Regions from separate parts of the Homo sapiens genome. Here all the other regions are reported to be linked to region 1. The links are microRNA targets in miRTarBase. Many come from high-throughput screens and were not tested one by one. Region 1 holds a microRNA gene; each other region holds the end of a gene's coding sequence.
Evidence for each region. Region 1 holds the annotated microRNA hsa-miR-3160-3p (AGAGCUGAGACUAGAAAGCCCA, at 1,885-1,906, opposite strand). A microRNA usually pairs through its seed, bases 2 to 8, with sites in the 3' UTR of a target mRNA and lowers its output. Matches are read on the target gene's strand: a 7mer-m8 pairs with bases 2 to 8, a 7mer-A1 pairs with bases 2 to 7 and ends in A, and an 8mer does both.

Region 1 (3,194 bases):
TATCTGTAATCCCAGCTATTCAGGAGGCTGAAGCAGGAGAATCGCTTGAACACAGTAGGTGGAGCTTGCAGTGAGTCGAGATCACGCCACTGCACTCCAGCCTGGGCAACAGAGCGAGACTGTCTCAAAAAAAAAAAAAAAAACAACTAATGTCCACACAAACACCTACACATGGATATTTATAGCAGCTTTATTTATTTATTCATAATTGTCAAAACTTGGAAGCAACCAAGATGTTCTTCATTTAAGAGATGAATGGATAAACTGTGGCACATCCATACAATGGAATATTATTCATGCTAAAAGAAATGAGCTATCAATCCACAAAAAGACATGGAGGAACCTTAAGTGCATGTTACTAAATGAAAGAAGTCAAAGGCTACATACTATAGGATTCCAACTGTATGAGATTCTGGAAAAGGAAAAGTTATAGAGACAGAAAAATGATGGGTAGTTGGTAGGGGTTGGTTTGCAGGGAGGCAGAGACGAACAGGTGAGCACAAGATTTTTTTTTTTTTTCTTTTCTTGAGAGAGGGTCTCACTCCATTGCCCAGGCTGGAGTGCAGTGGTGCAATCACGGCTCACGGAAGCCTCAATTTTCTGGGCTCAGATGATCCTCCCACCTCAGCCTCCCGAGTAGCTGGGGCTACAGGTGTGTGCCACCATGACCAGCTGATTTTTTTTGTATTTTTTGTAGAGATGGGGTTTCACCATGTTGCCCAGCCTTGTCTCCAACTCCTGAACTCAAGAGATCCACCTGCCTTGGCCTCCCAAAGTGTTGGGATTATAGGCATGAGCCACCATGTACAGCCACAAGGAGATTTTTTAAGCAGTAAAGTTATTTTCTATGTTACTACAATGTTGGATACATGGCACATACATTTGCCAAAACCAGTGAAATTTACAACACCAAGCATGAACCCTAATGTAAACGCATACTTTGAGTGATAATGATGTGTCTACGTTGGTTCATCAGCTGCAGCAAATGTACCACACTGGTGTGGACAGTGGGGAAGCCTGTGGGTGTAAGGGGAGGGAGTATATGGGAACTGTCTGTATTTTCCACTCAACTTTTAATAAACCTAAAAAAGAGGGAGGGGCCACGACTTTCATTCACATTCTAGGAGACAGTGGGAACAGCAGCTGTTCATAAGGACAATACTAGTCATGGTAGTTCATATCTATCATATAACCACAGAAATTCCTTTCATTGAGGCTTAGAGCAAAAGAAGAAATAAAGATTATTCTGATGACAGACAAAACAAGGAGGAAAAGAAGCTTAAATCCAGTGATCCTGGCTAACTATCAGCCAACAACAATGGCAAAAACTAAGCTGCCAAGTCTCATTCCAGAGTCAGGTCTTCAACTTGTAGGCCAGAGCTCCCAGAATGTGTCTAGGGATAAAATCATAATAATCATCACAGTCACATGATAGGTGAGCTCTGCCAAGCCTAATAGCCTCTGTGCATCTCTCTACCTTTGCTTCTCTCAGAAACTCTTCTCTTCTGTTGCTTGGAAAGAATTAGGAATCTTTTTTCAAAACAGCTTCACAGCTTCTCTCTAAGATTTGTTCTAGGAGAAGGGAAATGAAAAGTATGATTCAACAGTTCAGTGAAGATACTGAACAATGGGAATCATTAGCAAATCTATCAGAAAAGCTAATTCGGGGAAGGTAAAAAAGGGCAAGTTGCAAAGAAGGAAATGATTAAATTACATTTCAGTCCTGAAAAATCTGTTTAACTTGAGACTTTCTAATTCAGAATGGCCATCTCTGACTGTGTGCTGCTGGGAAGATGAAATAAGAATGGGGTTGGGGATGTAAACACTCATCATCCTGGAGACACAATTACTATCTTTCTGCTTGGCTGTTATATGAACCTGCCCTGGGCTTTCTAGTCTCAGCTCTCCTGACCAGCTGAGCTGGAGGAGAGCTGAGACTAGAAAGCCCAGGGCAGGTCCAACTGAAAAACTTATCAACTTTTCAAACAGATTGACAGTTGCTTTGGGCTGGAGGGATGTGAGAGAGGGAAAGGGGAAGTGACTGCTGATGTGTATGGGGTTTTTTAGGAGGTGATAAAGATGATATGAAATATCTAGATAGAGGTGATGACTGCACAACTCTATATACTAAAAGCCATTGAAATGTATACTTTAAATAGGTGGCCTGTATGGTAGGTGAATCATATCTCAATAATGCTGTTATTAAGAAAACACTATTCAAATAAATGTCTATCAATTTGTGAAGTAAAAAATGGTAATCCTATTTTTTGGATCCATTTCATTTCCTTAATAATTAAGAGTATTGGTGAACATCTTTTCATTTGTTTACCAGCTCACTGTGTATCTTTTAGATGGTCTACTAGTGTCTTATGTACATTTTAAAAACCTTTGTTATTTTAAGGTTTTTTGTTGTTGTTGTTGTTGTTGTTTGTTTTTTAGATGGGGCCTCACTATGTTGCCCGGCTTGCCTTGAACTCCTGGCCCTTAAGTGATCCTCCTGCCTCAGACTTCCCAGTAACTAGGACAACAGGCACATGCTACCCTACCTAGCTTTGGTTACTTTAACTTTTCTCTTATGGATTATCTGAGCTCTCTGTAAATAAATACACTGGCTTCTGTTTACAAAAAATAATTCTCAGAGCAAGGGAACCATCTTCCCTTTCTGAGTATATCTGCATGGCATCCTAGGAAGAACACTTAATCTTCTTTCCAGAAAGCTTCATTCAAATGCAGTCTTAAAATCTGTCCTAAGAAAGGGGTATAACTAAGTACTCAGTCACACTCACTCTAATCATCATTTAATCTAATCTGAAATCACAGTCAATGTATCCTATAGCCTGGTACCTGGAAAAAGTCCCTGATGACAAATAAGAAGACTTCTTCCATGCTTAGAAGTGTCCCAAGTTTCTCTGAGTTCTCATTTATGATTCTGACATTGAGAAAAATGCCCAAATATATATGTGTGTCTGTCTGTTTAAAATTATAGCTTTACTGAGATATAACTTACAATTCACCTATTTTAAAGTATACAATTCAAGGTTATTAGCATATCCGCACAGTTATGTAACCATCAGCAAATAAATTTTACAACCACCATCATTACTGTCTAATTTCAGGCATTTTCATCTCCCCTAAATACCGTACCCATTAACAGTCACTCCCTTTTACTCTGTCCCACTCCTGCCCTAGCCCTA
Region 2 (3,000 bases), not on the chromosome of region 1:
TGAGTTAAATATAGAAAATAATTTGCACAAACAAAAATAACTCCACTTTCCCTTGCTCCTAGTCACAACGAATACCACTCTTCCTCAAATGGAGACAAAAATGACTCACAAGCCCCTCACCTGGCACAAGGGGGCTTGTAACTTCAAAGCAACCAAGGTTGGGCTCTTCCTCCAAGCAGAAAAATTCACAGCCTTTTATATGTCAAGTTTTCTCTCAACTAGGAAGTCGTTAAAGTTTTTAAGTACATTACATATTTTGTTAAGGAGCAGCAGGAAATATATAAATCTCCTCTCAGATGGTGAGATGGTACACCTAACTCATCCAAATAAAGTTAACCTATTTCACTCGTTTAAAGAGCTTGGAATTGAGGAACTTTTAAATTAAAAAAACTATCAACTGGGGCCAGGCGCGGTGGCTCACACCTGCAATCCCAGCACTTTGGGAGGCCGAGGCGGCCAGATCACCTGAGGTCAGGAGTTCAAGACCAGCCTGGCCAACGTGGTGAAACCCTGTCTCTACAAAAATACAAAAATTAGCTGGGCGTGGTGGTGGGCACCTCTAATCCCAGCTACTCGGGAGGCTGAGGCGGAAGAATCGCTTGAACCCAGGAGGCGACGTTGCAGTGAGCCAAGATTGTGCCACTGCACTCCAGCCTGGGTGACAGAGCAAGACTCCATCTCAAAGAAGAAAACAACAAAAAAATAAAAACAAAACAAAAATCAGTTGGAATTGCAAACACCGTGTGTGACTTTCACTCAAAGTATCGGTGTCAAAATGTCCTACAGGAACACCTAGAAGCACAGGTTGACTATACAGTACTACAAATAAGATACCCAAAGCTTTATCTTAAATACCTGCCCCTTTTAATCACAAAATAATGCAATGCTCAATTTTGTTTCTGCTTTGTTCAGTTCCAAGTGTAGCCTTTTGACAAAACATTTCCCTATTAACTGAATTGTAAAAAATACAACCAAGCTTGTGCTCATTAAATATACATGTATATAAAAAACATACAAAAAGTACAAGATTATGTTAGGAAACTTTTACAGTGTCAACATCCTGATTTCTCAAAATCTTCAGTAGAGGGCCAAAGGTCAAATCTTTCTGTGCACAAAAACTTGATGTGACTGAAATCCTGAATCAGTGTCATGCCTAGGCATGCTATGCACAGAATGAATTTTAATATGCAGTCCTCTTTTAAAAAAAAAAAAAAAGGACAAAAAAAGTAACCAAAAAAAAAACCAAAAACACACCACAGGACAAAAAGTTCTTCTTAAATCAAATTCTATTTGTGAATTCAGCAAAATAATTTCTATAAAATAAAACAGCAAAATATTTAAATAGAATAGGGTGGGCTGTATCTGTTTGCAGGGGTATTTGGTTTTTAGACAGGTTCCAAAAAATTACACACATTCAAGTTACCAATTCTCTTTTAAATACAGTATGAACTGAGGATTTCCTTATTTTTAATCAAATGTTTATTCTGAAATTGTAATATCTCAATTATATCAACCAGTAGTTTCTTTTTTAATGAGACCCTGCTTTGAACGTTAAACGTTTTGGAATAATGGAAAAGGAGCTAGGACAATTCTTGCTTTCAAGTAAAATTGTGACTGAGCAGAAAATCAGCCAGCTATCTTGGTGCAGAGAGGTACTCCAAGTACCGTGGGGTTCTGATGACTTCCACGTCACTGGGATCCAACAGAAGGAAAGTTTTAGAAGATTCACCTAATAAACTCTACCAAAGAAACAAAACAAGCACACCAAATACAGTCTTATATTATGCTCCAGCATCTTGGCATAGCAAATTTTTGCATATTTGTTTTAAATCTTTAAAAATTCCCATTACTGATACGTAAGTGTTCTTTATTCCACCCAGAGATTGAACTGTCAAACATTATATATAAGGAACATATGTGCAACTGAAAATAGACTGTCACATTTCTCCCCTTGTTTTATATTTTAATATTCTAGGTGTAAGAAGTAAAAGCTCTGAGTAATACAGCTGTCACTTCTCGGACAACTGCTGTCATTATGGTAACTTTTTCCTCATTGGCTACACTAACTTGGTGTGAAGCCATGCTAAATGTTACAGCATAACTATAGCTTCAAAGTGATTAACCTAATATCAGAATAAAAAGGCAATGAAAAAAATCTAGAAACAGTGTTACATCACCAATTTTCCACATCAACCAAATAATTTAAAGGTTACCAGCCTTACATTGCTCATAGCAAAATTGACTCCAGTGGCAAAGAATTAACATGAAACTATTGGTGTGGCTGACATGGATGGGCTCTGTTTTGTTGCTGTTGGTTTTTTTTTTTTCTTTTTTGTAAAGGAGCTGATCCAACTGCCATGAGGCAGGCAACACTGGTTGCAGAGTGCAGTGGGTGTAACAAGAAAATTAACTTTTGTAGTTTGTGTAGATCTGTGAGTCTCATCAAGAAAAAAGTTTCTTGCTTAAGAATTAACAGTCAACATTAATATACTATATACACCTTTGCCATTTACACATTAGCATCAGGCCATTTATTACAAAACACTATACACTTTCCACTGCAGGCGGGTTATATATTGACAGCAAATTTCTGCAGATAAGACAGTGAATAAACTCTCCACTCCATGTTGATTAGGAATAGTTTTTCTAGTTTTAAATATTAGCCAGACACAGAAAAAGGTTGGACTGTAAGGCCTGGGTGCACAGTCTTGATGGAACCAGTTAATTATGTGCATTTCATTGATCCTTGGTTTGAGGTGGGGATACTTCTTCACTGCCTTCATAATTTTCTTGTGCTCGTTGGCCAGTTCTCTGAGGGTTGTTCATGTGATGTGCTGCTGGGCCTGTATATGGCTGTCCATGCACATGGTTATTCTGGGAAAGGAGAAAAGATCTGTATGTTAAAACTTTTCACATAGTAAAACAACTTCAAAATCATGGTCTGAAGTCTCTGGAAATGTATACTCTTATTCTTGGGACTTACTCTGTAAATACCCTTGG
Region 3 (3,194 bases), not on the chromosome of region 1:
GCCACTCCCTTCCTTTTTTTTTTTTTTTTTTTTTTTTTTTTTTTGAGACAGAGTCTTGCTCTGTCGCCCAGGCTGGAGTGCAGTGGTGCAATGTCAGCTCACTGCAACCTCTGCCACCTGGGTTCAAGCAATTCTCCTATCTCAGCTTCCCGAGTAGCTGGGACTACAGGCACACACCACCACACCTGGCTAGTTTTTATATTTTTAGTAGAGACAGGGTTTCACCATATTGGTCAGGCTGGTCTCGAACTCTTGACCTCAGGTGATCCACCTGCCTCGGCCTTCCAGAGTGCTGGGATTAAAGGTGTGAGCCACTGTGCCTGGCCACTCCCTTGAGACTCAGTTTCCACGTCTGTGAAATGGGGGAATACCCACAGTGAGAATTAGATGAGATAGATGCATTTGAAACCACAAATCGGGGTGCCCACCTGTGGTGGGTAGTTAGGTAGCTGTTACAAAGTGCCCCAGCAGAGACCCCCTTGACTAACTTTTATTCTTCCATCTTTTCCCACAGGTGGCAGCTGCCAACAAGAAGCATTAGAACAAACCATGCTGGGTTAATAAATTGCCTCATTCGTAATCCTGGTCTGGGTCTCTTTTTTGAGTCTCTTGCTCTGTCGCCCAGGCTGGAGTGCAGTGGCGCCATCTCAGCTCACTGCAATCTCCGCCTTCTGGGTTCAAATGATTCTCCTGCCTCAGCCTCCCAAAGTGCTGGGATTACAAGTGTGAGCCACTGTGCCTGGTCTGGTTTGGGTCTCTTGATTGTTCTTCAGGGGCATGAGGAAGAGGCGCTTCCTCCCTTCCCTTGGGTGAGGGGGCCCAGGGTGATTGGGTGGCTGTTTACCCGGCAGCCAGTCGGGCCTTCCCAGGTCAAACAGTTCCCATCTGGGTTTGGAGGAAGGACCCAGGGGCCCTTGTGGCTCACTCCCCCACATCCTGTCTTTGCAATTGTCAGAAAGTGAGAAACGAAAGGATGGCTGTGAGCTGTGACCTCAGCTGGGCCTGGGCTGCAGAGGTGGCTTCCGCTGGAGTAAAGCAAGAGGGCCCAGGGTTCATGCTCTTCCCTGGAAGGTAGAAAAGGACAGACCACCAGGGAGCCTCCACCGCAAACTGACCTGTGCTGCCTACACACTAACTTTCCTGGGCCTGGGGCCTGCACAGGCTGAATGGTCCTTGAGCCTTCACTCTGCATCTGAGCGGTCTTGGGCCCGCTGAGTGGCAGTGGCAGGAAGTCGGTGGAAGCAGATCCCTGTGCAGAAGTTGAATTACCAGGGCGGCCACACACGGGCTGCACAACCTTTGCAGTCGTGCACGGCAAGTGGGATGTGGCCTCCGCCCATGATTGGGCACCTGGTCAGGCTGGGAGATCCAAATAGCACCCAGTGGGCAGCTGTCCGACCCCTGGAGGGGCAAGCCAGGAAAGAAACTTAGGGCCCGCTGTGACCAGATGTCCCTCCCAGTTGGGAAGACTAAACTGGTTTGGCCAATATCTCCCAGGATTCCCCTGTCCAAATTATTCCTGGGATCTGACCCATTTCCTGGAAAGGGGCGAGCCTGGGTTTTGAAGTTCAAACTAGAGTTTAAATCACAACTCTGCCCCTAATCCCACGTAACCCTGTGCACCTTATCCTCTGAGCCTTCGTCTCCTCGTGTGTAAGCCTGCTAACTCCTGAGAGACTGGACAAGATGCCGTGGAGAGCCTTGGCTCTGAGTAGCTCTGCTGCTGGACAGTTCAGTTGGCAGTCCCCAAACGTAAGGCGTAAGAGTTTAAGAAGTATCGGCCAGGCACAGTGGCTCACACCTGTAATCTCAACACTTTGGGAGGCCGAGACGGGCTGATCACCTGAGGTTGGGAGCTTGAGAACAGCCTGACCAACATGGAGAAACCCTGTCTCTAAAAATACCAAAATTAGTTGGGCATGGTGGCGCGCACCTGTAATCCCAGCTACTCAGGAGGCTGAGGCAGAAGAATCGCTCGAACCCCGGAGGCGGAGGTTGCAGTGGGTTGAGATCGAGCAATTGCAATCCAGCCTGGGCAACAGAGCGAGACTCCATTTCAAAAAAAGAATCAATAAAAATGTTAAAAGCACCGTTGTTTACACTCAGCAACTCTGTGAAGTAAGTGCCGAAAAGTGCTTTGGAGGTAGGTAAAGTAAGCCATAGGCTGGGTAACTTGCCAGATATCCCACAGCTGGAGCCATCATATGAACCCAAGCAACCCAGCTGCAGCCTGGACCTAGCCACTCCAAGGGCTCTGTGCCTCAGAAAAGAGGCCCAAAGGGTTGCACTCTAGCTGCAGGCCAGTCACTCCCCATTCTGGGCTCTAGTTTCCTCTTTTGGCCATTAATGAAAACATTTCCCAGAGCTGACATGAGAACTCAATGCCAAGCGTCCGGTTTGCACAGCAGCAGGCATTGCGCTTCCCAGGTAGGAAGCAAGGTCTAGGTGTCCCGAGCAGGCCTGCAATCCCGCAGCCGCGCCGCTCCAGCCACTGGGGAGCAGTAGAGGGCCTAGAAAGAAGCTCAGCCACCGAAGGCTCTTGAAGGTGAATTCCTAGGGCTTCCAGGTCTGGAGCCAGGCTTATTCCTGGGAGGGGGTTGTAACGGGGAATTGAAGTGCAGAGGGGCTAGTGACCCCAGCAGAACACCTGGGGTCCTGGTTCCCAGGGCTACAGAACTGTCCTAGATACTGTGCCAAATGCACTGCAGAATATTCTTGCAGTCTTATCAAGTGGGGGGTTTGTACCCATGTTATAGGAGAAAAAACTGAGTTTCAGATGACCAGTCAGTTGGCAGAGCTGAGTTGTAAAAGAATCCTGGACTCTTGAGGCCCAGGCTCTTCTGCGTGGATGGGAATTGCCCTTTTCCCATCTCCTGGGTTCACGCCATTCTGCCTCAGCCTCCCCAGCAGCTGGGACTACAGGCACACGCCGCCATGCCCGGCTAATTTTTGTATTTTTAGTAGAGACGGGGTTTCACTGTGTTAGCCAGGATGGTTTTGATCTCCTGACCTTCTGATCCGCCCGCCTCAGCCTCCCAAAGTGTTGGGATTACAGGCGTGAGCCACCGCGCCCAGCTGGCAATTGCACTTTTTTAAAATTCTGCACTCTAGGAGGCAGAGGTGGGCAGATCACTTGAGGTCAAGAGTTTGAGACCTTGGCCTGGAGTGGTGGCTCACACCTGTAATCCCAACAC
Region 4 (3,194 bases), not on the chromosome of region 1:
TCCTCTTTTAACGTCTGTCTTGTTCTCTTTTTACCCACCACATATGTATAACTATGTGAAAAATTATATTTGTGCATAATAAAATGTGATAACTTTTTACAACAGAATGTGATTTTATTTTTATGTTTTTCTTCATAAGGTCCCAAAGAACTTCAAGTACTTCTAATATAAGCTGAACTGATTAGATTTCATTAATGGAATTACATATTTATGAAGGAAATACAAATTCTCAGTCCAGGATTTAAGTATTTCTCTTAAAGAATTCTACCTGGGATTATGATTAACTTAAAATAAAGAACCCAGATGTGCCAGCTCTGGGCAGATTTTGTGCCAGCTTTAGGCAGCTTCAGATTTTGAAGCTTTGTGGAGGCAGAAGTCTCTCCATATTCAGATACATGACATTGGCTGTAAGAGCAACTGAGGGCACTAAATAGTGATCACGTTTCAAATACAGAATTTATAATTAATTTTAAATTAATTTTCAGATTTAGTACTAAAGAACTTGACCAGATCAATGGATCCAAAGGATGTGCTTATTTTCAAAAAGGAAATATTTATATTTCTCGCTGTAGTGCTGAAATTTTTTGGATTTGCGAGAAGACAGCTGCCCCAGTGAAGACTGAGGATTTGGATTAGTATGCTTCTTCCAAATTCTCCAAGAAGTAAGAGACTTGTGAGTAAGCTCATATGAGGAAAGAGGAAACTACGGTACCAGAGCCAAACCAGCTTTTAAAATGACTGTGTATTTACATTATCAGACAAATGAACTTGTTTAACAGAACATTCTCCAGTTCCTTGTCTGACGTCTTCTGATTTGATGTTATTATTCGGTCTTAAAATTATACCTGGGGACAAAGGGGAATAGCCATACTATGGCCCTATGATTGTCTCAGAATCATTTCACTGAATTTCTTTGCTTTCTCAAATAAAGACTCCTTTCTTTCATTATTATTATACTGTCACGTGTGCACTAGGGTGATATTTAAATATTTAAAAACTAGGGTGATATTTAAATATTTAAAAACACAGGCCACAGCACTAGAACAAGGTCCAAGAGATGCCTGTTGTGATAGTTGCTGGGTCATGTGGAGGTCTGGGGGATCCCAGGCTAAGGGTCCTGGTAGCTGGGGCTGCAGCACTGTATCAACTGATTTGGAAATATTTTATTTTAGCAAATGTTTGTACCACTGTGAACCAGCTAAGTGTCGCCCTGCACTTGCAAAATAGCTTTTCTTCTCCAACAACCCTATGAAAATAAGCGTTCTTATTAATCTTTAAAATTTAGATAATTTATAATCTAGGCATAATAATTTAATATTTACTTTTTTTTGAGACACTGTCTCACTCTGTTGCCTAGGCTGTAGTATTGTGATGTGATTGGCTCACTGCAGCCTCAATCTCCTGGGCTCAATCGATCCCTCCCACCTCAGCCTCCCGAATACCTGGGACCACAGGCATGCAACACCATGCTCAGCTAATTTTTGTATTTTTTTGTAGAGACGAGGTTTCACCATGTTGCCCAGGCTGGTCTCAAACACCTAGGCTCAAGCTATCTGCCAGCCTCAGCCTCCCAAAATCCTGGGATTACAGGTGTGAGCCACTGCCCCTGGCCAATATTTATGTGTTTGTCATTTATTTAAATTAGTAATATTGATGTTATTGATTTTGTAATCTGGGTATTATTATAAAAATATATTCTCTTACAATTGATATTTTGTTTCCCTCAGAAAAGTCCTAATAAACTGTTTGAAGACATCAAAATAGAAGAACCATTATCTTTAATTATTTAGACCTTTCCTGAATCACAGTTTGTCAGTGTTCCTGCACACTAGATGCTAAATATTGTAAATCTAGGGTTCAAGATTTTTCCTGGAACAAAATTGCTGATTTCAGAGTACTGGTAAAGGATGTAGTTTTCCATTTATCTTCACATAGTTCCATAGCTATATATAGGAAGAAAATAATGATAAATTAGCCTTTGATACTGATTTTGCTAGATCAGAAATCTAGAATTTACTGGAAAATTGATATAATCTAAATTCAAAGTTAGATGCATTTCAATACTTTGACAGTCCTTTGAAACTACCACTTCATACATACCATCTAGTAGCTTCTTATTCTCTAAATATTTAAAATTATCAACTAATCAATGTTTTATATAGGCACCAACAGAAACTCTAGAACAAAGGAAAAATGTCAAGTGTGAAAATTTAGTAAAAATTACAAACAATATATTTAAGCACAACTTTTTAAATACAGACAATTATCATAGTTCAAGTAAACAGTGTTTCTTAGTTCTTATACGGGATTCAAACATAAGTTATATACACATGGATTAAAGAAGAAACTTGATTCTTCCATTTCTCTTTAGCAGTTTGCCCCTGGCATTCTCACAAAGATAAAATTATTTCTTAAAGGTCAAAATCTGTGCCTCTGACTCTCACACATTTGGGTTTCGTTTTATTCCCATGAGAAAAATAAGTTCTTTCATTCCTCTATTTCTAATTAAAAAAATCTACTTTTAATAATTAAAATACCTTAGTTGGTTATTTTGTTCCTATTAAGAAGTTACAGGTTTTTTTTTCTGGTATCTTGTATATTTTAATTCTCATTTCATGTAAACTCTTTTATACTCATTAAAAGAAAATTTCTGTTTCTGACCTTACAGTGCTCTGGATCTTGATCAGCTCCTATTACTAAGAGCTCCCTCCCTGCTGCCCTGCTATCATCATATTATCCCTGACGACCTCTACAGTAGATGCATAAATCCAGAGTTCTCAAGATTCACTAGCCCTTTGTGTCAGAATACTTCATCCTTTGATTCTGATAACTTAGCTTATGAGACAGGACTTGATTCCAGAAATTTTCATCTCTTTCTTTTTCTTTCTTTCTTCCTCTCCTACTGCCCCTACACCCTCTCCAGTCAAAATCCCTGAGATATTTTATTTATATATACAGGTATATACAAATGGTATATTTTTAGGGGAAAGACCATTGATATGGTTTGGATCTGTGTCCTTACCAAATCACATGTCAAGATGTAATCCCCAATGCTGGTTGTGGGGCCTGGTGGGAGGTGATTGGGTTATGGGAGCAGATTTCTCATGAATGACTTAGCACCATCTTCTTGGTGCTGTTCTCATGATAGCGAGTTCTCGCAAGATCCGGTTGTTTAAAAGTGTGTAGCATCCCCA

Region 2: the mRNA of USP9X is a reported target of hsa-miR-3160-3p. Seed matches in the 3' UTR shown: 7mer-m8 at 2,341-2,347.
Region 3: the mRNA of RPS19 is a reported target of hsa-miR-3160-3p. Seed matches in the 3' UTR shown: 8mer at 648-655.
Region 4: miRTarBase lists CLEC12B as a target of hsa-miR-3160-3p. The part of its 3' UTR that is shown has no 7-base or 8-base seed match.

What each region holds. Positions count from the first base shown.
Region 1 is chr11:46,449,931-46,453,124 of GRCh38, forward strand. It overlaps MIR3160-1 (microRNA 3160-1), which reads right to left and starts at 1,959; the gene lies at 1,875-1,959. All of the region lies in intron 11 of AMBRA1 (autophagy and beclin 1 regulator 1), which reads right to left. MIR3160-2 (microRNA 3160-2) reads left to right here and starts at 1,877; the gene lies at 1,877-1,957.
Region 2 is chrX:41,232,261-41,235,260 of GRCh38, reverse strand. It overlaps USP9X (ubiquitin specific peptidase 9 X-linked), which reads right to left. Exons shown (of 45, transcript NM_001039591.3): 45 at 1-2,874. The coding sequence ends at 2,737. Among named protein-coding and RNA genes, the nearest start is that of LINC02601, 42 kb to the left of the region's middle.
Region 3 is chr19:41,870,837-41,874,030 of GRCh38, forward strand. It overlaps RPS19 (ribosomal protein S19), which reads left to right. Exons shown (of 6, transcript NM_001022.4): 6 at 515-2,089. The coding sequence ends at 541. Among named protein-coding and RNA genes, the nearest start is that of MIR6797, 2.8 kb to the left of the region's middle. RefSeq lists enhancers at 640-709, 950-1,209, 2,523-2,772.
Region 4 is chr12:10,017,846-10,021,039 of GRCh38, forward strand. CLEC12B (C-type lectin domain family 12 member B) reads left to right here. Exons shown (of 6, transcript NM_001129998.3): 6 at 486-951. The coding sequence ends at 636. The region is part of intron 2 of LOC102724020 (a long non-coding RNA gene); the gene reads right to left. Among named protein-coding and RNA genes, the nearest start is that of CLEC12B, 8.8 kb to the left of the region's middle.